Homo sapiens: one gene and its partners. The protein of the gene in region 3 purifies or fractionates together with the protein of the main gene of each other region. This does not show direct contact. Each region holds a gene or a part of one and is shown on either strand. Other genes may lie near its edges.

Evidence for each region.
Region 1: the proteins of SRGAP3 (region 3) and PGGT1B purify together in Homo sapiens (affinity purification with mass spectrometry; 3 studies listed by BioGRID and IntAct, with this or other methods). This does not show direct contact.
Region 2: the proteins of SRGAP3 (region 3) and ACAD8 purify together in Homo sapiens (affinity purification with mass spectrometry; 3 studies listed by BioGRID and IntAct, with this or other methods). This does not show direct contact.
Region 4: the proteins of SRGAP3 (region 3) and CLOCK purify together in Homo sapiens (affinity purification with mass spectrometry; 3 studies listed by BioGRID and IntAct, with this or other methods). This does not show direct contact.

The regions. Positions count from the first base shown.
Region 1 is NC_000005.10:115,210,680-115,218,109, forward strand, and holds part of PGGT1B (geranylgeranyl transferase type-1 subunit beta), read right to left. Parts: intron 6,295-7,430; coding exon 6,186-6,294; intron 1,905-6,185; coding exon 1,723-1,904; 3' UTR 1,629-1,722; coding exon of another isoform or gene 1,599-1,628; 3' UTR 1-1,598. UniProt on the Homo sapiens protein: Catalyzes the transfer of a geranyl-geranyl moiety from geranyl-geranyl pyrophosphate to a cysteine at the fourth position from the C-terminus of proteins having the C-terminal sequence Cys-aliphatic-aliphatic-X.
Region 2 is NC_000011.10:134,249,273-134,256,947, forward strand, and holds the start of ACAD8 (isobutyryl-CoA dehydrogenase, mitochondrial), read left to right. Parts: upstream 1-4,295; 5' UTR 4,296-4,328; coding exon 4,329-4,437; intron 4,438-7,275; coding exon 7,276-7,376; intron 7,377-7,675. Other genes in the region: THYN1 (thymocyte nuclear protein 1), read right to left, coding at 556-648, 1,003-1,071, 1,858-2,036, 3,568-3,610.
Region 3 is NC_000003.12:9,057,550-9,064,979, forward strand, and holds part of SRGAP3 (SLIT-ROBO Rho GTPase-activating protein 3), read right to left. Parts: intron 7,033-7,430; coding exon 6,847-7,032; intron 2,811-6,846; coding exon 2,682-2,810; intron 924-2,681; coding exon 702-923; intron 1-701. UniProt on the Homo sapiens protein: GTPase-activating protein for RAC1 and perhaps Cdc42, but not for RhoA small GTPase. May attenuate RAC1 signaling in neurons.
Region 4 is NC_000004.12:55,438,556-55,445,985, forward strand, and holds part of CLOCK (circadian locomoter output cycles protein kaput), read right to left. Parts: intron 6,231-7,430; coding exon 6,078-6,230; intron 5,342-6,077; coding exon 5,132-5,341; intron 4,080-5,131; coding exon 3,877-4,079; intron 1-3,876. UniProt on the Homo sapiens protein: Transcriptional activator which forms a core component of the circadian clock.

The DNA of each region.
Region 1 (7,430 bases), on a different chromosome or scaffold from region 3:
CAATTTGGGCTTTTTATATAGTCCTAAAGCCATTATATATATGCTACTTTAACTTCCAATGTCTAAGAGATGACTTAGTTTGAGATATGGATGTCTTAATCTGCCAGGATTTAAATAGTAGCAACTGGAATAACCCATAGACGGATAACATCTGTTATTAAGCTTACTTTTTCCCCCACCATCAGAAGATTTATTTTATTTCTAATTAAAAAACATACAGTTGGCAAACTCAGGTTTAAAACTAAGCATGCCAATAATAAATCAATCATTTCTCCAAGTACACAGTGTTTCCCTTGGGAAGGACTGTTATTTCACAACATTTTTTTCCCTCTGATTTAGAAAAAAAGATAACATTTAAAGTATTACAATGCCTAAACAGTGATACCAGTAATCCAGTTTTTATACTGATACTTGTATTTCAACATTTATTATCACCAAGACTAACTTAAAGCCAACTCCTTTAGTGAAGAGATTTCTTTCCCCATTTCAGTACTAGACGCAATAGTTCTGAATGTCACTGAGCAAGTAACGGATATGAGTTATTGATAAATTAATTACTAATGAAGAGTTTTTATACTACCTCCTTTATAATTAGCTAGTTCATAGACTTAAAACAAAACAATGAACAAAAACAAAACCCTATTTCTTACCCTCTAAATGGTCGCATTTCCCTTTCACTTACCTGAAAATATGAGAATAAAAATGACCATGTATTGAGTTACACCACTGAATCTGTTTGAATGGTTCTGTTTTTGTATTTTTTACTTATTTAATTTGAAAAAAATTAGAAAAGTATTAGTTTGAAATTAGAGCAGCTAACACACTGGGGGCAATAAATTAAAAACTTCAAATGGCTAAAAATGAAAACACAAAGTATCTTTCCTTCTAGATAAAAAAGATTGTTTTCTTCCTAGAAAGCAAAAAAAAAAAAAAAAAAAAAAAGGCAACTAATGATTTGAGAATAAAATCAAACATAACTGGTATTCACCACAGCAATGTCTAGATAAATGACCCACATAGCACAAAACTTTCTCATTCACAATCACATACAGTTAAGTTGCTTTTCCCTCAGTTACATAATAGTTGTCTTCAAACAATCTCCTTTTAGAAAACTATCACATTAGTTAAACCTATTTATTCTTACTATGAAGTTATTAACTTCATTTATATAGGCCACACAGGTTTAATTGGCACACTTTACTTAAGAATAAGACAAAATAAGTCACTCTTCTTTAAAAAAAATTATGGTCATCTGTTTTCAAAGAATAATCCCAGATACTTAATTAATTAAAGCAAATTTTCTACGATCAGCAGTGAGCTTTTTAAATGATCACTAAGTGTTCACCTGAAGATTATCAATGCTATATGAAGTGTAAACTTGAAAATTTGTGTCCATTTTATAATAAGATACAATTTGCACTGAAGAGTTTTTAAAAAGATAACCTACACACATACAGTTAATTTGCCTCAAACAACTTCTTAGAAATACAGTATAAACATTTAAGAACCACGACAAAGTTGTGGTTCAAACTTCAACAAAGATTTTCTTGAAACCCAGTATAAAGATTACTGGCTCAAGACCATATCCCAAAGTGAAATCAGCAGGAGATTTGATTGTAAGACTCTACCTTTTAAAAAAAGAGCACACTTGGTTATACATGGCTTTTAAACTTGAGCTACAGTTATGCTACAAATCCCCCCACCCTCCCAATCTAAAATCAGTCATGTGGAGATATGTACATTCTCTGAGCATTGTTTAGAGTCCTTGGTTTTCCAGCTTTGATGGAGATCTAGAAGGCGTTCAGAAGTCCGTGTGCTTACATTCAGAGCAGGATGAACTTTACAAATTCCACTTTCCTCCATTAGTGACAGGCCACAGATCCCAAAGTATGCATGCAAAGCATCTGAAAAGAAGGCATTTAAAACATCATAATAGGCATTCTTACTTGTACATTCTACAGAATATTTTAGCCACATATTTACCAGCCCATCACTCCATTAAAAGTAAGTTTAGAGAAATGCTAATATAGTTTTAAAAATATTTGCTTTCTCAAAGCCTCAAACACCAATTAAAAAAAAAACTCAGATGATCAAAATAAAATATTTTATTCATGAAAATATCATTAACAAAGGAAAACAGTTTCCAGCTGAAGAGCTGATACTGTCCATAACCTCTGTGATTAAAAGACAGGAGTAGCAGCAGTCATATGTAAGACTTCTCACTTTGGGGAGTTTCCCCTCTTGCTTACTAGAGAACATGAAAACGAGTAGCTTCAATGCTATATCATTAAGTTTTTTTTTCTTTAAAACGAAAACAAAACTCTGAATCTAAGTTGCAATATCCCTCGCTCCACGTTTTACCTCTGAAAGTTCCTAAACCATATGCAGTACTATCCTAACATTGTGTTAAATAAAAGGAGCTTATGCAAAAATAATCCATTCTGGAATGCTGTGCCATATTTAATCCTCCTATTTAGGGTAATGTCAGTCATTGTAAAAATATCTGATCTGACAATAAAAACAAACTCACATTCTATTTGGTTGAAATAATATGAGTGCTCATACCATGACAATTCTGCACTGGCTCACTAGTTTCCCATCTTTCAGGGGGCAGCGATCCTCTTCTATTAAAGTGGCCAATGAAATCACATGGCCATTCCTGCCTAGGAGTCTTATGTAGACTTCTGAAGAGCTCAGAGCTTTGCAGTTATAGGAACATTAAAAAGACAGTTTTGTACCAGTCAAAATTTTTTTCTATTTTTGAATTGGCCGACATTTATGGCCTTAAGAGCTATTAAAGTTCAAAACAGGCTGGGTGTGGTGGCTCACACCTGTAATCCCAGCACTTTGGGAGGCCGAGAAGGGCATATTCCTTGAGCCACAGGAGTTCGATACCAGCCTGGGCAATACGGTGAAGCTCCATCTCTACAAAAAATACAAAAATTACCAGGTATGGTGGCGTGCGCCTGTAGTTCCGGCTACTCGGGAGGCTGAGGTGGGAGGCTCACCTGAGCCTAGGGAGGTTGAGGCTGCAGTGAGGCATGATTATATCACTGCACTCTAGCCTGGGCAAAATAATGAAACCCTGTCTCAAAACAACAACAACAAAAAGTTCAACACATCTTACCACATCAAACTTTGTCAAAAGAGTTAAAGAAAAAGCTTTACTTACAACAGTATCACTTATTTTTCAAAACAGAAATGACAAATAGCTGTGCTTACTCAATGCCATTGTGAAAATGTTATTTAACTAATGGAGGCCCATGTTGATCACCTTTTAGGCCTTTTCAGAAAATACTTAGGTTTCTTCTGGCTCACTTTCCTTTGACTTTCAGACTATAAAAAATAAACTTGATTTCACCTGTCATATTACATCCATATAGTTATTCTAAAACTACAAAGGGTACAAAGCAACATTAAGCTTTGTTTTCTAGAAACTAGGAAACTTTTCTAGGAAAAAGTACAACAGAAAATATATATCTATAATAACATAAAATAGAACTGTGTAAAACTAAAATCTCTCTGGGTAAAGTAACAAATAAAACTTATTTGTTTCTCAAAAAGATTTTTGTAACAGCCAATGAGATCAGAACTCAATTGTTTGAAGCCTCAAATTGTGTTTTTAAAAAAACTCCTTATCTGTAAGTGGCAACGTACAAGCACTTTAGATGTGGAACTATATGTTTACTCCATAATAAAGCACTTTAGATGTTGAAATATATATTTACTCCACAATAAAAGGTTATTCTTTTGAAGTTTCTTTCATAAATGTATATAAAATCCCTTTGTATCAAATTTGCCACTAAATTCACTAGAATGAAGAATAAGCTTAATTTTAAAGAATCTTGTTAAAATGATTAAAGATTCTGGGACCAGATCTTTACACATAAATTCAATTTAGCAAAGCCCTTCTATGCTTTCTATTGCATACTCTGAAAACATTGTAATGTATCTGTAAAAAGTAAGTAGTACATCCAAATATTTACACAAATGTTAAAGTTAGCAACTGAACTCTCCGGAAAAAGCCTCAAGAACTTTCTTTTAAAAAAGCTATTGGAAACACTGAATGTATTTCAAGTATGTTTATACAAGAAATGTTTCCTAAGAGACTGTCATTTCCCTACTCCCATTATTTGTTAAAACAGTACCCTGCACTGGTTTAAAAAATGGAATGAAGACCAAAATAATTCTCAGTTTTGAGGCACTAGAGATATCAAAAATTTCAAGATATTATTTTGCTTGAGAAATTAACTTCTGAAGACACACTTTGGCTTACGACTTTGAAAGCAATGTACACTTTCTCTAAGAAGACATGTTTTACTACTGATTGATTGATTGAGACAGAGTCTCGCTCTGTCGCCCAGGCTGGAGTGCAATGGTGAGATCTTGGCTCACTGCAACCTCCACCTCCTGGGTTCAAGCAATTCTCCTGCCTCAGCCTCCTGAGTAGCTGGGACTACAGGTGTGCACCACCATGCCTGGCTATTTTTGTATTTTTGGTAGAGACGGGGTCTCGCCATATTGACCAGGCTGGTCTTCAACTCCTGACTTCAAGTGATTCACCAGCATCAGCCTCCCAAAGCTGGGATTACAGGCGTGAGCCACTGCACCCGGCCATTTATTTTATTTTATTTTTTGAGATGTACTCTTGCTCTGTTGCCCAGGCTGGAGTGCAGTGGTGTGACCTTGGCTCACTGCAACCTCTGCCTCCCAGGTTCAGGCAATTCTTCTGCCCCAGCCTCCCAAGTAGTTGGGATTACAGGCACCCACCACCACGCCTGGCTAATTATTGTATTTTTAGTAGAGGCAATGTTTCACCATGTGGCCAGGCTAGTCTCAAACTCCTTGCCTCAAGTGATCCGCCCACCTCAGCCTCCCAAACTGTTGGGATTACAGGCGTGAGCCAAAACTCCTGGCCTAGGAAGCATGTTTTATATGAAAATATAGGCAAGTAGGGGTGTAAGGAAATATTCCTGCTCATTTCAAATACAAAAATTGATTTCATGAGCTCCTTATTTATATTCTGATTCAATCACACATTCCAACCACAGCAGTTCTGTGATGGAAGATGAGTTGATGAGGCACTTTCCAGGCTGATAATAAAAACCACGACTCTATTGCAATACTGGCAAAAACAATCATTCCTTGTGTCTAGTTTCATATTTGTAACTAATTCTTTAACTACTTGCTTATCAAAAGTGTCAGTGTTTGAAATTATTTCAAAACACACTTAAATGGATTTTTATAGGGAAGCTGTATATAGACTCATTTTGCTGGAGGTGAAAACATATGTCGGGTGAGGTGTAGGCTGCAGAATGATGCTAGAGGTGGGAGAGGAGCCAAATTTTGGAAGGGCCTTGAGTGCCATGCCATTTATATTGTCTGAATCTGTTGAAATTTGGAGAACAAGAGTATGGGAAGTGAGAAACACATATATTCAGGATTTGAAATATTTTATTTAATGACTTTTTTTTTTGAGACAAAGAGTCTCGCTCTGTCACACAGGCTGGAGGGCAGTGGTGCAATCTCGGCTCACTGGAACCTCTGCTTCCTGGGTTTAAGTGACTCTCCTGCCTCAGACTCCCGCATAGCTGGGACTACAGGCACGCATCACCACACCTGGCTGATTTTTGTATTTTTAGTAGAGTCGGGGTTTCAACACGTTGGCCAGGCTGGTCTTGAACTCCTGACCTCAAGTGATCCACCTGCCTTGACCTCCCAAAGTGTTGGGGTTACAGGCATGAGCCACTGTGCCCGGCCTATTTAATGACTTCTGAAAAGAGTAAGAACTGATTCCCTTCAGGATTGGGAGTAATTTATTATACTTAGTTCAAGTCATGACTAATAATCCTAACGGCTTTGGATGGCCTAAATAATTCTCTTCTTTGGAAAGGACCCATTCAGACCATCTACATTATTGCTGCAAATGAAATAAAACATTACTAAGTAAAATATTTGGGAAAAAATGCACACTATTCCCATGCATCTTGATAATAAACTCTTTCATTTATACTCTCTAATACCCTAAATTTATCCTAAGCTTACACAATATACCTTTTAAAAAATATTATTTAATGTAACTTTGCAACTGGATATATTTTCTATCATATGCCTTTTCTGATAAAGATGCTTGAAGATCTATTCAGGAAATAAAGGTTGTTCTGATTCACAAAGAAAATAATTACCTGGATGACTGTCTGGCCACTTGGCAAATCCCCCTACAAGGCGATCTTGAGTTGATAAGATGTAATTTCTATTTTTCTCAAAGTTAGTGTATTGGAAAATTTTTAGAAGCTGAAATGACATGACAAATAAAAATTTACTGACATAAAACTCATATCAACCTTTGGCTCAAATTTCAGATACGTGTCATTTAGATATGCTTTTCTTTAGCTAAGGTGCTCAGACCAAGTCTCTGGGGCCTTGAGCACTTTTGAAATGAGTAAATCACATTAACTTTTTAATTTTCTTATCAAATCTACTCTCCTTTTCTCGACTCTCTATTTCCTTCTTCTGAACCAGGCCAACTGAACCCTTTAAATCACATTAAGCTAAATTCAAAAGACAACTCGAATCCACTCAACATAATCAGTCATTTTAAAAAGTACAATTTTATCTACCCATATTTTAACTCTTATGATAAGCTCTTGAGCTATTAGTTATAAACTAGTAGTAACTGGAATTAAAAATATTTTTTAAAAAAAGAGCAAACAAAAATTACTAACCAGATGCTACAGACAGTTTTGAAAATAGTAAAAAAGTATAGCTCTTTAATTAGGAAAGAAAAAGGTAAGACAAAAATGATTGCAACATAAAAAACTATATAGTTTTTAATGATTTAGGACATGTACTTGGCTTTTCTCTCAAGACCCCATAAAAGTAAAATACAAATAAATAAATAATACTGTGAAGTTCAAGATGAGGTGCACAGTAGGTAAGAGGGTTCAAGACATTTCTGATGATACAAAGCAATTTAATATATGTTAATGAACCAGAGAGAGCCACAGCTTTTAGTGACTAATGAAGAAGCATTATTTCTCAAAAAGAAAAGCTAAACTCATAAGAAAGTTATGGTACAAACAGGAAACAAATTTATTCATTTACATTGATTTAATTAATAAAATATAAGGAAAAAGACTTTTTTGAATCTTGATGTTAGGAATATTTTCCATCAGTGGCACACTGGTCATTACATAAAAATGAAAAAATTATAATAGTAACACTGCACTTGGCTTAGCAATAAACAATATTTTCACTATCCCATAATAAGTGTTGATTACTGGTTTTTAAATTTTAGAATCAACCTATAGGCAAAGGCTGAAAGATGTGATTATTAATATTGAACAAATATATGAATGTGTCCTAACTTAACATTATAAAAATAAAGGTAACCTTATATAGCATTGGAAGGTAGAAGATGAGGAAAATAT
Region 2 (7,675 bases), on a different chromosome or scaffold from region 3:
AACAAAAGCTTTGAATCATCTGCCTGCAGTCAGCTCCACAGCCAATCTTTTAATCCATATCCAACTTTCATTTCTTCCCTGCACATTCTTAACCCATCTGCCTTGCTGTACAGCCAATGGGGGCTCAGATATTTGGAAACAATATATAGTCTAATATATAGACTAGGAAATCAACTCTGTTTTTACAAAAGTCTTAAAAACATGCTCTAAAAACAAATGGCAAAGGTTATTACTGGTACCACTGTTTTTTTCCCCTCTGCACAGTTAATAATTTTATCCTGATAAGCTTGGAGGAGCTATCATCAGGCCTGTTTTCGAGTGAGATCAAGACTTAGAGGTGGAGTGAAGTCTGTGCTAGTCGGACCTGAATGAAGGCCTGCTTTGAGTTATCAGATAGGAAGGGGCCAGGGCAGTTTTTCCCTATTCCTGTAAAAGGGGGATGGGGTGGGGGGGAGTGTACTTTTTTGTTGCCTAATTAAGGTATATCCCTTTATATCTACTTAAGTTAGTCTCCCTGGAGGAAAAGGGATTCACACCAAAACCTGCCCAACTAACCTTCATGAGTCCTGCGATGCCTGGCTCTTTGCAGTTGCTATGGTAGAAGAAGGCTTCTTCTCCCAGCTTCATGGCTCTAAGGAAGTTCCGAGCCTGTCCCGGGAGAAGAAAGAGTAACTATCCTCCCACCAGCTGGAAAGTACTAGCTTTTAGCAGAAATCAAGTCTGCTTTTAATAGATGGGTGATTCTTGTCTGCAACTCCTCAATTCATTAGAAAGTCCTTCCCCTTTGCCAGGACACCCAGACTTTTACCAGGACATTGGCCAGAACACAGGCCAATTGAAAATTTCATGCAGAGTACTTAAGGCATTTTTTAATACATTATCAGGTTTGCTTCTGAGAAAAAGCAACCTTGGCCAAGAGGTTCTGCTACTGAGTACGTCATGAGGAGGAGGCAGGCATTCATCCCACCTGGGTCTCAGGCGACCTCCTCCTTACCCTCTTACCTGGTAGTTACGAACACCATCCCAGCATGTTGTCTGTTTGGGCTGTGCTTTGAGATCCTCAATGCTGAACTAGGCAAGAGGAAATAAATTCAATCATTAAACAATCCTTGGCCAGTTAGTAAGCACATATGGAAGCAGACAGTTCCTTCCCCTAAAATGAGAGGGGCCACTGGCTATAGAGGAAGTATGTAGTTCACCGGGAAGTGGCTCCACAGAGACACTTTTGCTGGGTGAATGTAAGTAAGCCTTGTGTTACCTTGTTATCCTTGCTAATTATGAGGATTAGCTGAATGAATAATCTAGGTGATAAAGTAATCTGCTAGTTACTTGCATTTTACTTTATATTTATAATAGTTCTGCTTATATTTTTCCCAGGCTATATTAAATTCCCTGAAATATACATCAACTGTTGGCAGGGAGACACCTAGGAGCATGGCAGGTGTTCAGAGAAAGGTAACCTAAGATTGAGGTTGGCAGACTATAGCCTTCAGGACAAATCTAACCCCATGCTGGATTTTGTGAATAAAGTTGAACTTGAACACAGCCACAGCTGTTTACTTATTATCTGTGGCCACTCTCTTGCTACAAGGGCAGGGTTGCAACAGAGACTGTAACACGCACAAGCCTACAAAATTTACTATCTGGCCCTTTGTGGCAAAGGTTAGCCAACCCCTGCCCTAGATACACAGGTTCACAAACCAGCTGATGATAATAAACCCTGCCGATTTTATTCATTTTTACCTTTTTCCTTCCCTTCAAAGATAAGAAGCTGGGGATGGAACCCTATGGTGTCCCATATTCACTTCTCATTTAAAAAACACCATGAAGGGACTGGAGACAGGTCAAGGGTCTCACCTTCACATCTACACCTTTCTCTAGGCGGCTCTCTGGCTCTGACTTCATCAGCCAGTGGCTGCTTAGATTCTTCAAACAGTTTTTAGTGGCTGAAGTCTTCTGAGGGTTGGAGTCCTCCACTTTAGCTAATGCCTCACCTGAGTTCTCAGTTTTGGTGCGTTTTCCTGATAGTCCCTTGTCTGCAATAGGAGAAGCAAAAAGAAAAGATCATGCTTGTTAAAGGCAATGTTTCATAATGGAAAAAGCTTAGCTTTGGAGTCAGACCTGGATTCAAATCATGGATCCATTACCAGCTGTAGGAACTTAATCTTACTGTTAAGAAGCTTTCCTTATCTATAAAAATTAGACAAGAATACCTACCTTACAGGGTATCTTCTGGATTATCTATTCAATAGGGTAAGAACACCTTACAGGGTTGTTCAGGATTAAAGGTCCGGACAGTAGTCAATACATGTTTTCCTTTCCTCACTCTCTCTTCTATGCCTTTGCATAGGAAAGAGGAAACTGAGCACCTACTTGCAACTATTTTGAAGCTTAAATGAGGTAATACAAAGGGCCTAGACAATGCCTGGCATTACAATAAGTGCATAATAAAAGCATTATTATTCTCATCTCATACGTCTTTCCTTCTTGCTCACTGTGGCTCCTGGCCCATCTCCTTTCTGCTCCTTGAAGGTGCCAATAAAAGTTGAAAGAAACAGTTCATTCAGGACATTGTAGAAAAATGGTGATGATTCGATTTCATCCCAAGACAATCAGAATGTGCCTGGAACACAGTAGGCATTCAGTAGCTAAGTTGTTAAATTACTATATGACAGGGCCCAAGGTCTATGTGTTACCCTAACCCTAACTCGGTTAATCTACATAACCTGTGAGATGTTCTACTCTTCATCTGGGAAGCATGCTCCAGATCACACATCCAGTAATGGTGGAATCAAGATATGAGGTCAGCACCTGTCACTGAGGTCTATCTGAAGCTACTTAATGACTATACTGCCTCTGAATTTAGTCAAAGTCCCTACATCAATTGTCATTAAATACCATTTATGGCTGTCTAATGCTCTGAACCCAGCATACCTTCCTAACCTAGTTTCCTAATGGCCCCTTAGGAGTTAACAGGCCCACTGCAAACACCACATATTGATAAATAACTGCAATGTGCTGTAGTATATCTGGAACCCCTGTCATTCCCAAAAGAGGTACTTTCTGTACCTTCCAATGTTCCTCCTCCTCCATCCACTTAGAATGCCATCCATCTTTGTGATTATAAAAACGACATCACGTTTTCTTAGTACTAAACTTTGCCCGTGGAAAGTCTCCCATTCTTCAAGGCTGGGCTCAAATTCCACATCCTTCTCGAGGCCTTCCCCGTGATTCCTCCCTCCATAAACTTAACAATCCATTTTCCTGAACCCCATCACATCTGTTTGCAGTTCACCCGCAAGCAGGCGCTTTATATTCTTTAGCACGCCACCTGGTATCTCAAAGAGTCTTTGTGCACAACAACCATTGCCTGAATAAACAAGAAAAAGGAACTGTAGGTAGGAGCTTGGTGAGACAAGTAAAGAAGATGGAGAGTGATTAAGGATAATGGAGTAAAAATATCACAAAGGGTTCTCAAAAAGCAGGGAGTGAAAAATGAGTACTAAACAGGCTCTTCGAGAAAAGTTTTTTCTTGGGCTGCCTTTGTGCAGCCTAGGGGCAGCTCACCTGAACCAGAAGTCCCAGCCAGCCTCTTCCGGGGTCTCGACATGGTCACGCTGCAGGGGACTTTAGTGCGGACGATTCTGGAATCAACGGAGATACAAGAAAGAATGCTAATGTCCTCCAAAACCCGCGCAGAGCGAGATGGAGGCAACGAGAGGCAGCCTAGAACGTCTCCAACTTTTGCGAAACACAGACGCCTACGTTTGAGCCCTCAAATCCTTCCCTCCGTTATCTGCGCCATTTCCATCTCGCATAACCTGCCCCTAAACTCTTCTCGGTTCTGTCCTTGGTCCTTCTCATCCAGGAACCCCTATCTCAGTATGTAGTTCACTGGGAAGTGGCTCCACAGAGACACTTTTGTTGGGTGAATATAAGTAAGCCTTGTGTTACCTTGTTATCCTTGCTAATTAGGATCAACTGAATGGATAATCTAGATGATGAAGTAATTTGCTGGCTACAGACCCAACACTCTGCAGACTCGACTGCGGTCCGCCTCCGCTGCGCCGCAGGCTGTGCAGCGCGACCCCCGCGGCGCTTGGTGGGCGGTGCATCTCTGCGGCGCCGAGGCCCCGAGGACTTCTGGGAATTGTAGTCCTGTCCCCTTGGGAGCCCGCCTGGCACCTGGGTTGTTAGGGCTCGTGGGAGGACTACAACCCCCAGGGTGCAGTGGGACAGGCGTTGCCGGGTCGCAGGTCCCGCCAGTGCGAGCGCAACGGAGGTCGAAGGCGTTCAGACTCTTAGCTGAACGCGGAGCTGCGGCGGCTATGCTGTGGAGCGGCTGCCGGCGTTTCGGGGCGCGCCTCGGCTGCCTGCCCGGCGGTCTCCGGGTCCTCGTCCAGACCGGCCACCGGAGCTTGACCTCCTGCATCGACCGTAAGGATCTCCTGGCGGGCAGTAGGACAGGTGTCCAGAACCCCGGCGGACATATGTCCGCGAGGGGCTGCAGTCTCCCCGTTCCATCCAGTCACCCCGGCGTCAGCTCCCCTTCCGGCCAGTCACCCCCCCGGCCTGGCTCCCTACTCCGGCCGGTCACCCCCGGCCTGGCTGCCCCCTCCGGTCGGTCACCACCATCCGGGTCCCCATCTGGCCCGTCACCCCTGCCCGGGTCCTCCTCCGGCCGGTCACCCCCGCCCCGGTCCTCCTCCGGCCGGTCACCCCCGCCCCGGTCCTCCTCCGGCCGGTCACCCCCCGCAGGTTCCCCTCCGGCCGGTCATCCCCCCGCAGGTTCCCCTCCGGCCCGGGTCCTCCTGCGGCCGGTCACCCTCGGATGCTTAGAGAAGTGAAGAAACTTGGGGCTTGGTTGTTGTTGGGTTGGTTGGTTTTTAATCATAACAGTAGGTCATAAAAGCAGTGAGAATATAAGAAGCTGGCTGGGTGCTGATGGTGACAACTGCACAAGAACTCCAGGTCATACAAGATTTGCTCACACACAAAGATTTGGTATCTTAACACCTCTGGCTATAAGACACTTTTAGTGTTGAAACTCATGCAGGAAAAATAATTATTATTGCCAGTGGGAAACTCTACCAGAGCTGACAAACTTGAGTGTCTTTAGGCTCTGAACAGTAATTTGAATGTAGCGAGGAGTGGTGGAGACCCGGCCAGTTTGTGACTTCTCTGCCAAGAATGTTTATAAACACTTTTTTCTTCTGAAATATTTTTAAATTTATTTTAAATAAATGGCAGTTTTCTTTACAACAGAATAAGTCCCTTAGATATCAGATCTATAAAGTACAGTAAGGCATAGAATACTGTTTTCTTCTGAATGTCCTAAAACTCATTCAAGAGGTGCTGCCCTGGCCTAGCGCTTAGAATTTGATAACCCAGATTACCCTGGTTGATACCGAAGCAGATAAGGAATTATTTAGAGGTGGGTTTTGTTATTGTTTGCATCTTGCTTACACTTGAGTGGCTCTGCAGTCAAAGGCTTTTCCCATTTCATTTGGAGTGTTTTTCTATTTAGCTTTACCTTTTTAGTGTATATGTATTGGCATCTTGAGCTCTGCTAGTAACTATGTATTGGCATCTTGAACTCTGCTAGTAACTGGCAAAGTTCATGAGTGGTGGTATTTGTTTTGTTTTTATACTGTATTTCCTTCTGGGAACTTGTGTTTACTTATGCATATGATTTGCATAAAACTATTTCCTTCCATTAGAATGCAACTCAGATTTATTTCTTAAGCCTGTGGTTCCTTGAACTATTTGTTTTAGGAAGTAGCCATTTACAGAAGAAGAAGATTTGTTAACATTTAATGAGCTCTTGCTAGGATTGAAATAGTCATCCTTTGTGTGAATGGATCTTATTTATTTATTTTTTTGAGATGGAGTCTCTTTCTGTTGCCCAGGCTGGAGTACAGTGGTGCGATCTCAACTCACCGCAACCTCTGCCCCACGGGTTCAAGCAATTCTTGTGCCTCAGCCTCCCAAGTAGCTGGGATTACAGCACATGCCACCATGCCCAGCTAATTTTTATATTTTTAGTAGAGACGGGGTTTCACCATGTTGGACAAGCTGGACTTGAACTCCTGACCTCAAGTGATCCACCTGCCTTGGCCTCCCCAAAGTCTGGGATTACAGGCATGAGCCACTGCGCCTGGCTGGATCATATTTATTTTTGTAACCCCAGCACTGCTACCTAGTAAACACCCAATAAACATTCTTTTGGAAATGATCTTTGAGCCATGGTCTACAGTAACAGCAACCCTTGTACAAAATTGTGTGAATAAATGGCCTGACCCCAGTCAGAGAACCATGAATTGTTTATCCCTAACTCTGTTCCTGAGGGTAATACCCAACATAGGTTTCTGCTCTGAGTTTCTCAAGGCAGCCTAATCGTTAATCCTCAGAACTCTTCATTTCTGACTTTCCCATTTTAATGAGAGTACTGATCACAGAAAGCAGTGCCCTCTCCAGGCTCGCATAGCCAGCCATTACTGATGCCCAGATTTGCCCCAAGGAACAGACTCTGGCACCTGCCCTTGTGTTCTTCTGTGAGGACTGCATCGCTTGTAGGCACTGAAGTAAATTATTGCCAAGTGTGGCGCCATAGTCTTCCCATAGTGCTCTTTTTTCTTTTTTTCTTCTTTTGAAACAGAGTCTTGCTCTGTCACCCAGGCTAGAGTGCAATGGCACAATCTCAGCTCACTGCAACCTCTGCCTCCTGGGTTCAAGCGATTCTCCTGTCTCACCCTCCCAAAGTAGCTGGGATTACAGGCATGCGCCACCACACCCAGCTAATTTTTGTATTTTTAGTAGAGGCGGGGTTTTTCCATGTTGGTCAGGCTGGTCTTGAGCTCCTGACCTCAGGTGATCTGCCCGCCTCGGCCTCCTGAAGTGCTGGGATTATAGGCGTGAACCATCACGCCCAGCCCATAGTGCTCTTCAGTGTCAGTTATAATGACCAAAGTTCTAGCACTGTGGCCTCAACCTCTAGGTCTACAACTGCATTTTACTAAGTGCTAGGATAAGAGATGTCTGGAAGTCCCCTATCCTGTTCTAGGTTGATCTGGATGTGTGCTAGAACTGTCCTTTCTCCATATGACAAGTGGAATAACGACAGAAGCTGCCATTCTCTAGCTGTTAAAGGCTATACCGTGTATGGGAAATACTACAGTAGATCCACTTTCACAACTTCGTGGTGCTTCTTGTTGGCAACACCTTGTTGGCAACACTGACCCTGTCCTAGAACAGTATATGCAATCCTGCCCACAGCTTCCATGGGACTTAATGAAGAGCAGAAAGAATTTCAAAAAGTGGCCTTTGACTTTGCTGCCCGAGAGATGGCTCCAAATATGGCAGAGTGGGACCAGAAGGTAGGCGTTTTTCTTGTGCTTAGACGTTCTAACAACAGATGTCTCAGGCAGACCTTTATCTTTGTCTCCTGATAATGTAATTGTTAAATGTCTCCTCCACTTACCAACTCTTACTGCAAGTGAGAATACCGGTAGTGGATGATTTTTCCTAGAAGGCATCCTGATCATCTTGTACATAACTTTTTTTTTGTTAGTTGAATAAAGATTTGGATATAAAACTAAGGCAGTTCTATAGATAATAAAAAGAAACTTCTTAATGCCAGAACAAGTTTTTACAGGACCCATGTTAACTGATAACC
Region 3 (7,430 bases):
CCTCCCAGCAGGTGCCACGGGTGGCCCAGCTGAGCCTCACTGGGACCCAGAGGCTGGCTGGGTCTGGGACACTGTTGGAGTGGGTTCCCCCAATGCCCCGAGGGAGCAGTGACACAGACAAGCTCAGGGAACTATTTGCATAAGGGATTTTGTAAGCCTTGGGTAACGAGTAGGGCTGTGTTGGGGCCAGTGACAAGGGCCTTCTTTCCATTTGTTTTTCGTTTGTTTTATTCAGAATATAACAAGGATCTGAGCAGCACAAGCACTGAAGGAAACTCGATCGTCTGGTGTATCAAAGGCTTGCAGTGTTGGAGGAAGGGAGCGCCCTGGTGGAATGCACCAGCCTGAATGGCTGTGTTGAGGCTACAGTGAGGCCCAGGCTTCCCGTGGACCTCACCCGCACATGTGGGGTTAGAACATGAGCCTGTGTGCAGACTGGGGCTCCCTTGGAGTCTTCTAGACATAGCTGGGAGGGGTTATAAGGGAAGCCAAGGTCCTGTAATTCTGCACGGGGGGCACCTGAGACAGCAAGATGAGGGTATTAGTGGTAAACTCCTCAGCTGGGGAAGCCCATGAACCAGGAGCTTGACCCCAGGCGTCGGATAGAAACTTTCTGTACGTGCAACCAGGGATGATGTACTGGAGCACATGGGGGAACAGAGGGAAGCAGCCCCAAGCCCGGGCTCCAGGAGGAAGCCTACCTCATCCCCCATGTGGGGCTGGAACTCGAACTTGAGTGGAGGGCAGAAGACTTGATTGCACATGTCCATGACTGTGTGCTTGTCACTTCGGGAATCCAGGTTGTCCACTGCATTCTCAATGACATCCAGCCCTTCGTGGCGAGAGGTCTCCAGGTTGTATTCAGCTGAGAGATAGGTCCGGAAGGTGCGGGCCAGGCTGGCATGGAAGCCCAAATCACAGCACTTGGGGAGAGGCAACAACGGAAGGTTATGGGTGACAGCCAGGATGTGGAGGGGCGGTCACTGGCCACCACAGTGACTTACAATTACCTCCCTTTCCACAGCCGAATCTTCCATCCCGGAGGCCCCAAGGCACTTTGGAATCCTACTGCACAAACCTCACGGCGCCCCTCAAGGGGAGTTGCGGTTGAGATTTGGGCAATAGCAGAACTAGGTTCCCTATATTCACCATCTTTCTCTCTCTCTTTTTTTTTTTTTTTTTTTTTTTGAGACGGAGTCTAGCTCTGTCACTTAGGCTGGAGTGCAGTGGCACGATCTCGGCTCACTGCTACCTCCGCCTCCCGGGTTCAATCGATTCTCCTGCCTCAGCCTCCCGAGTAGCTGAGATTACAGGTGCCCACCACCAAGCCCAGCTAATTTTTGTATTTTTAACAGAGACAGGGATTTACTGTGTTGGCCAGACTGGTCTCGAACTCGTGACATTGTGATCTACCCGCCTCGGCCTCCCAAAGTGCTCAGATTACAAGCGTGAGCCCATCTTTCTCTTCTTTAGGGTGGTGTGCATGCATCCCCTCTGCCTGGAATACCCTTCTTTCGGAATTCAGTTTAGAGGTCACTTCCTCCAGGAAAGCTTCCTTGATGTTCTCCCCACTCAGAGCTGGTCAGGTGATCCTCCTCCAGGGGTCCACATTTCCCTCTACCTCTCTCACTGTGACCCCTGCCACTTAGTATTAAAATCACCTATCAACATGTCCTTGGCGAGGTAAGCTCCCCGAGGGCCAACCCACTGCTCCTGCTCCTCAAGTTCCAGACAACAGCAGGTGCTCAATTAATATATGGTAAATGAATGAATAAAGGGGCTGAAAGGGCAAAAAAAGAAAGCGAAAAGCAGGAAAGAGGAAGGTCTGGCCTTGGGCCATTTGGGAGCTCCCTCTCCTTGCGATGCTGACAATGGGGCCCCCTCTGGAGCCACGGGAAAAGCAGGAGCCCCCTGACTTCCCGACAGGATACACCAGGAAAAGAGTCCATCGACCATACCAAGCCTTTACTAAACATGGACAGGGCCAGCTCCCCCATCGGTGCAGGAAGGAGGACATGAGAGAAACAGTCCTGGCTCCTACTTAGATGACACAGAAGCCCTCCCCAGCACCACCGCTCACAGTGTTCTTTCTCCCAGTCTGCTTGTCCCTGTGGCGTGTCCTGCACAGCGGGTACTCGGGAGTCAGTGTTCCGTTCTCCATTTGCTTAAGCTGCCCGATTTCTCCCGAGATAACTTCCCCACACAAAGCTGATCTGTATAATTAAGTCTGTCTCATTCGCTACTTTCTTTCGCATGTACACGTGTCTGGCTGAGTGGCCCTAGGGGCGCCAAACATTTTACTAATAACATCTCCTTTACCACACTGGGAAATCCCCCAAGGCATGAACTGTGTATGGTTCCCCCCTGAACCCCTCAAACCCAGCAAAGGACCTGGTGTCCAGGAGGGTACTTGGGAAGTTGCCATTGGATATACAACTGCCCAAGCCAACTGCACTGGGGCCACCAGAGGCCCATGTCCCACTCGTGAAAATAGACACCACGAGGTAACATTCATTTTCCACCTCCCCAAATCACTGCCCTTCCCCTCCAGCAGGGCTCAAAAGAGCTGTGGCTACCCGAGAATGTCAGGTAAAGACAAAGACCAGCCCCTCCTTCAGCCAGTGACATGTGCCAGCCCTGGTGTGGGCCCTGCTCAGTCCCAGACTCCCCAGGGAGCTCACATCGATCAGATCAGAGACATCATGGATGTAGTATTTGCTTATAGCTGCGTTGGTGGCTGCCAGATTGAGCAAGTAGTCATTCCGGGCCTTTGTGCATTTCAGCTTGTTCTCAGAGTACTTGGCCTGCCTCTGGAAGAAGAAAAGAGTAGATGTAAGAGCAAGCCATTTAAGAGGACGGGGTTTGTGATTTTCTATTCCTTTTTTTTTTTTTTTTGAGACAGGGTGTTGCTCTGTCACCCAGGTGAGAGTGCAGTGGTGTGATCATAGCTCACTTCAGCCTTAACTCCTGGACTCAAGCAATCCTCCCACCTCAGCCTCCCGAGTAGCTGGGACTATAGATGCATGCCATCACACCTGGCTAGTTTTTGTTTTTGTTTTTCAAGTTTTTTAGAGATGGTGGGGTCTCACTATGTTGCCCAGGCTGATCTGGAACTCCTGGCCTCAAGCCATCCTCCCACCTTAGCCTCCCAAGTGTTGGGATTATAGGCGTGAGCCACCATGCCCGGCCCAGTGGTTTTTTTTTTCTTTATAGTAGCTGCCTGCCACCCAAGCCCTGCACAGCCACACCTATGGAAGACCTCCATCTGCTAGATGAGTAAGGGCTGGACCTGGACTCAGGCAGCTCCCCTTACACCTGCACCTTGCACCTGCACAGCCGATGAGGACACTAGATGAGCAGCAGCCTCTGACGGTCCTTGCTAGGGTGGGGTGTAAATAAGATCCCTGGCCAGGAGCGTTGGCCTGTAATCCCAACACTTTGGGAGGCTGAGGCAGGCATATCACCTGAGGTTAGGAGAGCAAGACCAGCCTGGCCAACAGGGCAAAACCCCATCTCTACTAAAAATACAAAAATTAGCTGGGTGTGGTGGCATGCACCTATAGTCCCAGCTACTTGGAAGGCTGAGATGGGAGAATCATTTGAACCCAGGAGGCAGAGGTTGCAGTAAGCAGAGATTGCACCACTGCACTCCAGGTCTAGGTGACAGAGGGAGACTCCGTCTCAATCAATCAATCAATAAGACCCCTACCCAGCACCCTCCAGTGATGTCTCAAACTGCTGCTCGCACCTGAGAAGCCCTCCATGGCCTTGTCCCATCCACTTCTCAAGCTCCACCTTCCCCCAGGCTCCCCCTCATTTGCTCAGCCTCCTTGGTCCATCCTTTAAGAGGCAAAATTCATTCCTGTCTCAAGGCCCTCAAACTCATGGTTCCCTCAGCCTTGGCCCAAGGTCTCAAGGCCAGATTGGCTTTCGATGACAAGCTCATCTACCTCTCCCACTCCCTCTGCCCACCCCTGCCCGGCTCTTTTCTTAATAAGCACTTCCACCACCTGAAACTGTATTTTTTTCTACCCTTTTATTTACTTGTTGATTGTCAGTGATCTCCCATTAGAAAATAAGTGGGGTTAGGGACTTGATCTGCTTTGTTCATTGCTAGGTCTGGAGCGCCCAGAACTGTCCCTGCACAAGGTCATTTTCAGTCATTTTCAGTGACTGGAGGACAGGAGGGAGGGAGGATGACTGGATGGGAGAGGTGGGGTGGGGCAGCCAGAGCCGCCCATCTCAGCAGGGACCCAATTGCCCCCCAGGGAGCTGCTCCTGGCTAAGCCAGCCTGGGAATGGAGCAGGAAAGAGGAAGTGGGCTGGAGAGCTGTCCCCTGCTCCTTTCAGACTGATGAGTCCCATTGCTGTGTAAAAAGTCAGGTCTCTGTAAATAAATGGTTTTTCTCCTTTGCCTAGACATTCTTACACCTTCCTATTCCACAGTGAGTTCTCATCCTTTTAATTCTCTTCAGAGATCTCTAACTTTTCCCCAGGGTCCTGGCAGTTACATCCTACGCCAGCCATGCACCTGACCCCCCACAGAGAGTTTTGATATTCTTGGCCTATTTCCAGTGGACAACTATGACCATGACCCTGAGACCATTTTTTAGCCCTTCATAGACTCATAAAATGTTATACCTAGAAAGGATGTTAAAGGTATTTTCATTAAACTCATCTATTTTATAGATGAGGAAATGAGAACTGGAGAGAAGTGGCTTGCCCAAGAGCCAAGTAGCTAATCGAACCAAAAATACAACTCTGAACTAAAAATCGGCCTCTGGACTTCCAGTCAGCACTCACTCTACCTCTCTCCTTCTCCCTATGTTGTAGTCCTATCATTCCCTGCTTGGTTATTTTATTTTATTTTTATTTATTTTTACTGTATTCACAGAGTCACACAACCATCATCATTATCTAACTTTAGAATATTTTCATCACCCCAGAAAGAAATGCTGCACCCATTCACAGTCACTCCCCATTTTCCTCTTCTTTAGCCCCTGGAAACCAATCATCTATTTTCTATTTCCATAGATTTGTCTATGCTGGACATTTCATAAATGTAGTTGCACAATATGTGGTCTTCCGTGACTGACTTCTTTCATTTAGCATACTGTTTTCAAGGTTCATCCATGTTGCAGCATTTGTCAGTACTTCATTCCTTTTCATGGCTGAATAATATTCCATCACATGGATATACCACATTTTATTCAACCATCCATCAGCAGATGAACATCTGAGTCATTTCCATCTTTTGGCTATTAAGAATAATGCTGCTATTCATGTACAAGTCTTTGAATGGACATATGTTTTTATTTTTCTTGGGTGGATACCTAGGAATAAAATTGTTGAGTCACATGGTAACTTAGTCTATGTTTAACATTTAGACTGCTTTCCAAAGTGATAGAATCACTGTACATTCCCTTTAGTAGTGTGTGAAGATTCCAATTTATCCACATTCTCACCAATACTTCCTATAGTCTGCCTTTTTAATTCTAGCTATCCCTGTGGGTATGAAGTGATAGTTCACTGAGTTTGATTTGCATTTCTTTAATCACTAATAATAGAGACAATCTTTTTTTTTTTTTTTTTTTTTTTTTTGAGACAGGGTCTTACTCTGTTGCCCAGGCTGGAGTGCAGTGATGTGATCATGGCTCACTGCAGCCTTGACCTCCCTCAGGTAATCCTCCTACCTCAGCCTCCCAAGTGGCTGGGACTACAGGCACATGCCACCACACCTGCCTAATTTTTCTATTTTTTGTAGAGATAGGGTTCTGCCATGTTGCCCAACCTGGTCTCGAACTCCTGGGCTCAAACTATCTGACCACCTTGGCCTCCCAAAGTGTTAGGATTACAGGTGTGAACCACCATGCCTGGCCCAGACAATCTTTTCATGTACTTATTGGCCACTCATACATGTTTTTTTAAGAGCAACATCTATTCAAATTCTTTGCCTTTTTTTTTTCATAAATAGAGATGGAATTTTGCCATTTTACCCAGGCTGGTCTCGAACTCCTGGGCTCAAACGATCCTCCCGCCTTGGCCTCCCAAAGTGCTGATATTACAGGCATGAGCCACTGTGGCCAGCCCTACAGCACTGTTTTTAACTAAATCTGTTTCGAGTTTCACAATTCTCAGCCCAGTGCTCTGGGCAATTGATCAGAGTTGACATGAGAGATGAGACGAATTTGCCACTCCTATCAGATTTGAAAACTGCAGCTCAGAGAGGTGTTGTAAACGTGGCATTTTCAAAACCCAGCTCATTTGACTCCAAAGCTAGAATTCCTCCCACCACACCCTACTAAAGGACTTTTCCAGAATCAATACACAGGGATTCTAACTCTCTCATCTTTGAATTGGCAATGGCAATTTTGGAATGAGCCCTTCACCAGCTTTCCAGGTGCTGGTCCCTCTTGTTGAGACACATTCAGCAATCAGTTCCCACCTCACCCCCCGCCCCTACCCTTGGCCATCAAATTGGCCTCTGGAACAAGCCCCTGCTCCCGCTAATGCCTTGTGATTCCAGCTCATCTGAGAAGGTGCTTGCTGGGTGTGAATCTCGTCACAGTTCAGCTTTCTTGTGAGTTGAGCACCTCGTCTGCCTGCTGACCTTAGCACTAAGCCAGGCCTAACCAGTGTTAGCACGGGCATGCCTGGCTCCGCTTCCACTAGGACACCGATCTCCAAAAGAGGAGATGCTGGCTACATTGTCCCATCCCCCCTACCCACCACCACCCCACTGGGATGCAGGGGAATAAGGGGGAAGGCTAAGGCTGTCCGCCAAGACCATGGCCCTCCCCTTTGTGCCCTGTCCCCAATCGCTCCCAGCCCAGGGCCCCCACTCACCTTCTCCTTCATCTTCTCAATCTTCTTCACAGAGCTGCGGCGCTGGGGCCGGTCCTCGTGCCGGAGCAGGTTCATGCTGAGGTCTCCTGACTTATTGAACTGCTTCTCCTCCTGCTTCTCAGCCTCCTTCAGCTTGCTTTCCGCACTGATGCTCTCTGCATGGTACATGTGGTAGGTTTTCATGACCTGGGGGTGCACAAGTAGGGGAAATCAGCAGCCAGCTATGGCCCAGCACGGCCCTCCCTGTTACTCCTGGCTCCATACCAAGTTCTACACTCTAGCTGGCCACTGCCCTGGTCCCAAAACACACTCTGGGCACCTGCCTTCCTTTACTTTTGCACAGACTCTCTGAGGACTGGATATGATGATGATGGTCATTACCATCACCATCATCATCAACAACAACATCATTAAGCCCTAACTAAGAGCCAGGCATGGGCTAGTAAAGAGGAAATTAAAAAATAATAATAAATAAATAAATAAATAAATAAATAAGGAGGAAATTTAAAAGGGTAACCGTAGCTCCAAGCATCTGGGGACTGTCAGACGTGACAAGGCAAGCCTGGCCCTTGCTCAGCTGTCCT
Region 4 (7,430 bases), on a different chromosome or scaffold from region 3:
AAAAAAATTGGAGTCCAAAGTACAAGGTATACATCATAAAACGCAGTGGAGTAAATACTTACCTAAGATAATACCCAATGACATTGCCAGTTTGTTTTTCAAGGTCTGTATATTCCTACTTTGTTTCATTTTAAAAGATTCCCTTTGGTGTAACAGTAAAACAAAAAATTCATACAGCAAGATCAATGTGTAACAAAAATACAAAACGTCTTTGGATATCCACATTCAAAAGAATAAAGTTAGATCCTTACCTCACATCACAGACAAAGATTAACTTGAAATGGACCAAAGACCAAAACATAAGAGCTAATGCTATAAAACTCTTAGAAGAAAACATAGGGGAAAAGCTTCATGACATTGGATTTAGCAATAGTTAGCAGCTGGAATTAGCAATAATTTCTTGGATATGATACCAAAAGTACAGGCAACAAAAGAACAGATAAACAGATAAACTGGACTGTATCAAATTAAAAATCTTGTGAATCAAAGGGCACTATCAACAGAGTAAAAAGGTAACTGTCCCATCCCACAGATGGGAGAAAATATCTGCATATCATCCTTCTGATAAGGGATTAGTAACCAGAATGTCTAAGAGCTCCTTCAACTCAACAACAATCAACCCAATTAAAAAAATGGGCAAAGGTCAAACTTGAACAAACACTTCTCCAAAGAAGATACACAAATGGCTAATAAGCACATGAAAAGGTGCTCCACATCACTAATCATTAGGGAAATACAAATCAAAACCACAACAAGAGGCTACTTTATACCCATCAGGATGGCTATTATAAAAAACAAACAACAATAGAAAATGACCAGTGTTGGCAAGCAAGTAGAGAAACCTTGTGCAGTGCTGGTGGGAATGTAAAAATGGTGCAGCCACTATGGAAAACAGTATGCAGTTCCTCAAAAAATTCACTATAGGATTACTATATGAAGGAATTCCACTTCTGCTTATATAACCCCCCAAAATGAAAGCAGGGACTCAAAGAGATATTTGTACACCCATAATCATAAGCAGCATTATTCACAGGAGCCAAAAAGTGGAAGTAACCCAAGACTCCATTGACAGACGGAATGAATAAGCAAAACATAGTAGAGTAGAATATTACTTAGCCTTAAAAAGGAAAGAAATTCTGACAATTGCTGTAACATGGATGAACCCTGAGAACATTATCCTAAGTAAAATAAGCCATTCACAAAAGGACAAATACTGTATGATTCCATTTATATGAGGTACTTAGACTAGTCCAATTTACAGGGACAGAAAGTAGAATGGTGGTTGGGGAGAGAAGAATGGGGACTTGTATAATGGGTATGGAGTTTCTGTTTGGGAAGATGAAAAAAGTTCTGGAAATGGTTAGGGGAGATGGTAACAATCGTACTCAGTGACAATGAACTGTATATTTTAAAACGGTTAACATGGTAACTTTTATGTCATTTGTATTTTTCCACAATAAAAATTTTTTTTAATCTATAAAAAAAAACCTTTTTCTTTTTATAAAATTACTAGGTACTAGGGGTGTCAGATATATGTGGCACATGATTCATCTGCTACACTGGCACACAGTTCATGAATAAACAAAGCTATTATAATGTATTTTTTAAACTCTAGGTTTATAGAAGAAATTTACACAAAATTGTAGCTTACAAATTTAATTCAAAACCAAATGACATTCTAACAGTGAATAAAAACTCCTCTCAATTTATAAATTCATCAACGCAGCATAGCGTCCTCTGTGCTAGAATTCATTAATTTTTCCCTCTTTCCCTGCTTCCTTTTGCTTTTTGAAATGAAAGAACAATAACCCCAAAAAAATGATGCTTCTTTGTGGAACAATATTATTTCCATTTGCCTTTTCTGTGAGATGAAGTTTATAACATTGGTCATTACAGTGAGATATGACACTAACATAGATGTGGCATGACATAACTGTATTTACAAACTGTTTATGTAACAATATTACACTTAGTACAGATCTTGACAATAAAATACTCTATTTTATACACTACACAACCAAATACTTTAATGCAAAACAAAAAAGAATTAAAATTGTCCATATTAAGAAAGTCCAAAGAAATAAGTAATATTTACAAAGTACACTTAGTCACAGAAGTACTAAGTGCTGATTTCTCCATAATCTTAAATTAATACCTGAATTAGCCCATGGCTCACTGGTAAATGTGATAAGAATATTTTCTTTAATCTGCTTTCGTGTAACTCACACTTCTGCAGCTTTGTATACTCTGGGCTCCCTCTGCCCAGAATGCCTCCCTAGACTCCATGCCACACCCACATCCAAAGCCAAGCTCAAGTCTTGAAGAGTCAGGGCAAGTATCTCTGCCTTGGTGAAGCTTTCCTGACCACACCTTTATTCACCTGCTTGCCTCAACCCATGAAACTGCTTACAAAAACAAAACAAAACAAAACACAACACAACAAAAAACTGCTCACTTCCTCCTTTCTAAAGACCTCTGAAGTATTCATCACCCCAAACAATACCGATTTATCTTTCTATTGCTTTTACTAGTTTGGTCTTTCCCTTGGGGAAGGAACGATGCCATACTCATCTAGGTAGGCCTTCAAATGTTTGCTAAGATGTGGTTTCTGTCCCCCTCAAAAGATAGATGTTCAGGGAAACTCAACTTAAAACCACAATTAAATATCACCTTACCCAGCCAGACTGGCCATTACTAAAAAGTCAAAAAACAATAATGTTGGCACAGATGTGGTGAAAACACTTACACACTGCTGGTGGGAACGTGAGATTTCTCAAAGAACTAAAAGTAGATCTACCATTTGATCCAGCAATCCCACTACTGGGTATCTACCCAAAGGAAAAGAAGTCACTGTATCAAAAAGACACCTGCATACATATGGCTATCGCAGTACAGTTCACAATTCCAAAGATATGGAATCAACCTAAGTGCCCATCAACCAATGAGTGGAGAAAGAAAATGTGGTATGTATACACCATGGCCTACTACTCAGCCATAAAAAAAGAAAAAATAATGCATTTTGCAGCAACTTGGATGGAGCTGGAGGCCATTATTCTAAGTGAAGTAACTCAGGAATGGAAAACCAAACACCATATATTCTCACTTGTAAGTGGGAGCTAAGCTATGGGTACAGCAAAGGCATACAGAGTGATATAATAGACTTTGGAGGAGGATGGTGGGGGTGAGGGATAAAAAACTACATATTGGATAGAATGTGCACTACTCAGGTGATCAGTGCACTAAAATAAGTTATAGATGGTTGTTTTTCCAGAGCAGTCCACAAAACCTTCCTGTAATATATGCTTAAGCACTCAAGCACTGAAATGAAGACACCAAGGTCTGTGTTCAGAGTTCCCTTCCTCATCACCTTAACTAGCTATAGATCCCTTGGCTAATTACTGAAAACTCACTTTTTTCTTATCTGGGAAATAAAAGGAGGCCCTCACATACATTTTCTTTTAATAAATGACTATTTGAGATAATATATTTTGAGCATTTAACAAACTTAAAAAAGGTAAGCTACCCTAACCACTGTTACTACATGGAAATTCTCTAGCATCTATATTGAAAAGACAAAAGCTTCACAGTGACACAGAGCCTGTCATAAACCTTTTCTAACAGTGTGCTGCAGAATTTGTATTCTATAATATTTTGTAGCATATTTTTGGACAAGAAAAAAAATTTGTTGTTACCCTTTAATTATGAAGTCTTTAAACAATGAATACATTCAGTGTTTTTATTTCAAATTTAAGAACATTGGCTGCAGTGAGCATCTCATTAAAATCACATTAAAAAATTTGATTAAGAAATCAAATTATTGTTTTCTAATCAATCGGTTTACAATTTTAAAAATAACAAATGAAATATGACAACTACCTTATCTGCCTGTCCTGAGTGAATGTAGTTACTGCAGCACTCTGGGTGCTGTTTTGTGGCATACTAGATGGAATCTGGACCATGCTTCCGGCTGCAGGCTGAGAAATCACCATAGTGTTATACAGTGGGGCTGTAAGAGTGCTCTGTGTCTGACTGGGTAGAGATGTTTGCTGACTGTGCCCACTCAGTACATTTTGTTGACTCTGTTAAAAATAAAGAGATTTTATAGACAGATTAACTGAAAATAATTATTTGGGAAGTATGCTAGAATTCATCATTCTAACAATATGACAATATGACAGAGAAAGAAGTGGCAGGATATATTACTCTGGGGGAAATATAACCACAAAGGAATGACTCGTGGTAACTGAGAATGAATTAGTCTTGAATATCTTGCTGGAAGGCAAGCTATGACTTTAGAAAGGAGTGTGATTGTAATAGAGATGATATAAAATATACTCAAAGAATTTCTGTTAAATGCCCAAAGTGAATGACTAATTAGTGGGCATTTTTCTATTTTTCATTTAAATCCTTGGGATTTACAGTCACAGATCTACAGTAATTACCAACATTTTCTGGAATATTCAATAAACCATTATGCCCCCTCCCCCAACAGTCTATTCTGCACATATGGGAACAGGCTTCCTGGTCAGCCTCTTGAGCAAGTCATACCTTTTAAACACAGAAATAGTCTAAGTTACAAGAACTTGGTATAACTACTAGACTACATCTTTAAACAGATTGTGACATATTTTAAAGCTCAGCCAGGCGCAGTGGCTCACACCTGTAATCCCAGCACTTTGGGAGGCTGAGGTGGGCGATCACCTGAGGTCAGGAGTTTGAGATCAGCCAGGCCAACATGGTGAAACCCCATCTCTACTAAAAATATGAAAATCAGCCTGGCATGGTGGTGGGTGCCTATAATCCCAGCTACTCGGGAGGTTGGGGCAGGAGAATCGCTTCAACCCAGGAGGCGGAGGTTGCAGTAATCTAAGGTCACGCCATTGCACTCCAGCCTGGGCAACAGGAGCAAAACTCCGTCTCAAAAAAAAAAAAAGAAAAAAAAAAGCTGAAAATATTTGATACTAACATGATTTGCACAAAATATTTTAATAATCACTCTCAATACTATACTTTCTAAATACTATTAAATTTTGAAATGATATTTTATCATTAGAGCTTTATTTCTGCTTCAGCAATAGTGTGCCTTCCAACCACTGATCACTCCATAGCCCGCTGTGCTCAGTAACATTACCTGAGTTGATGTACTCTGTAAAGTCTGTTGTTGTATCATGTGCTGAGTTGTGCCAATGTGTCCAGTATTCATTCCACTTTGAATCTGGTTAGTAGGAACAACTTGGCCTTGCATATTTATAGGTGCAAGTTGCTGGATATTAGATGAATTTCCAGAAGAAAGTTGAACGGAACCAAAATTCAACCCAGGATTTGATTGTTGCAAAAACATCTTTAAAAATAAAGATTATGTTAAAATGAGCTTTGTAGATTGAAAAGAAGAATGAGCATTAAAAAGAAGGCAAAATCAAGCTACAAAGTATGTTTAAAAAGCAAGTAACAAGGCTAAGTCACTTTGAAGAATTAGCAATAAATAAGTAGTGAATAAAATATGAAACTTTATATTCAATCTTTCAGTTATCTTGTTTCCAATTGTTAGAAAAAGTGTAACTAGTGTTAGTCTGTGGATTGACAGCTCTGTATCACTTATCATTTATAATTTATAACATCACACAGAAGTAGTTTTCACTCCAAGTTTCCCTTTACCAAAGTCATAGTCTCCTAGAGTGGTCCTGCTGGTTGGTCATATAAGACTAATTTGAATCATACATACTGGTATCTTAATAAAAATATTACTGATGATTGATTTATAAATTCTGTACCCAAGATGTACCTAAAACTTTATGTAAAATATAATTTTTATATTATGGATTCAAACTTACTAAAATTTGGACTGGTAAAAAAAGATGACTGGAGAAACAAGGATGTTGACAGAAATACCCTCAGAAACAAATTATCTTTAGAGACTGTAAGTATAATCATACTGAGTAGGTAACCAGTGAATATTTATTGAACTGAATTGATAAAACGTATCTCTTGCATCTCACTTTTAATTAAGAAAAGTTAATTTTCCTAGAAATCCAAAATGTGAATGGGATGCTTTGTTTGTATTCAAATATAACAATTACCTGCAGCCCCTGACCATGGACCATCTGAAGTTGTTCTTGAATTTTTCTTAGTTCTTCTTGTTGCCGATGAATATTTGCTTCTATCATGCGTGTCCGTTGTTCCAATTGGTCTTTCAGATGTTGCATGGCTCCTAATTGAGCTGAAAACTGAAACTGAAGTACCATGTACGGAAAAAGTGTAATATATTTTAGAATTACTTACTCCTTATAATTGCACAACATGAAAAGTAAGCAGTATAACATGAGTGAAGGATGATAACATCCTTCACTAGTTATGTCCCTTAGTTTCTAATCCACCCATCTTTGCTCTGCTTTGTAATATTGGACCTGGACCTTCAAAATATTTCTCCTTTGCCAGCAGGCACAAAGTTATCCACATCAGTAGGTGGTGCTGGAGGGACACTGCCAAGAAAGTGCTCAACTCCTGGTTCTGGTGCTTCTTGCTCTTATGTCAGGGTGCCAACGGGAAGCTTTTAATATTTTCTCAACCACGTTTAACATATGATATGGTCTGGTTATTGTTAATTTCTGAAATCAAAGTTGTGTGCCCTGAAATGTAATTTAGTATCCCAAATACAAACTATTGAAGATAGAGTTAAAAAGCTTTGGATGGGAAGGACATTTCTCACTTTTACATACACCTGCCCCGGCAGGTGGCTTTCCAGCAAGTCTCAATGACATCCTAGTGGGCAGCTTCCCTGCAAGCTTTACCAGTACCCCAGCTGATGGCTTCCAGCTCTCTACCTCTAATCTGTGGCATGTCAGTGAACTTCTCTATTATCCAGTTGCTATAGCCACATTTGCCCCAAGAAGATCTGCATCTTAGCCTGGCATGGGGGAAGAGGAGGTTAGGAGCTTGTGGGGAGTCTTCTAAGTATGTTCCTTCCTTGGGTACTCTCCATCTACCTTACAGCTAGTGGTTGCTCTCTGCATCTGCTATTTCTATATTCTTTTTTTTTTTTTTTTTTTTTTTTTTGAGACAGGATCTCACTCTGTCACCCAGGCTGGAAAGCAGTGGTGCGATCATGGCTCTCTACAGCCTTAACTTTCTGGGTTCAAGAGCTCCTCCCATCTCAGCCTCCCCAGTGGCTGGGACTACAGGCATGCACCACCACACCTGGCTAACATAAAAATGTATTTTCTTGTAAAAATAGGGTCTTGCTATGTTGCCCATGCTGGTCTTGAACTCATTGGCTCAAGAAGTCCTCCTACTTCGGCCTTCCAAAGTGCTAAGAATACAGGCATGAGCCACCACACCCAGCTTTATTCCTATATTCTTTAGGTTCTCTTTACTTCTTTTAGGAGTTAATCCGTGTTACCAGTTAATAATTTTTTATATTATTCCTGTTCAAA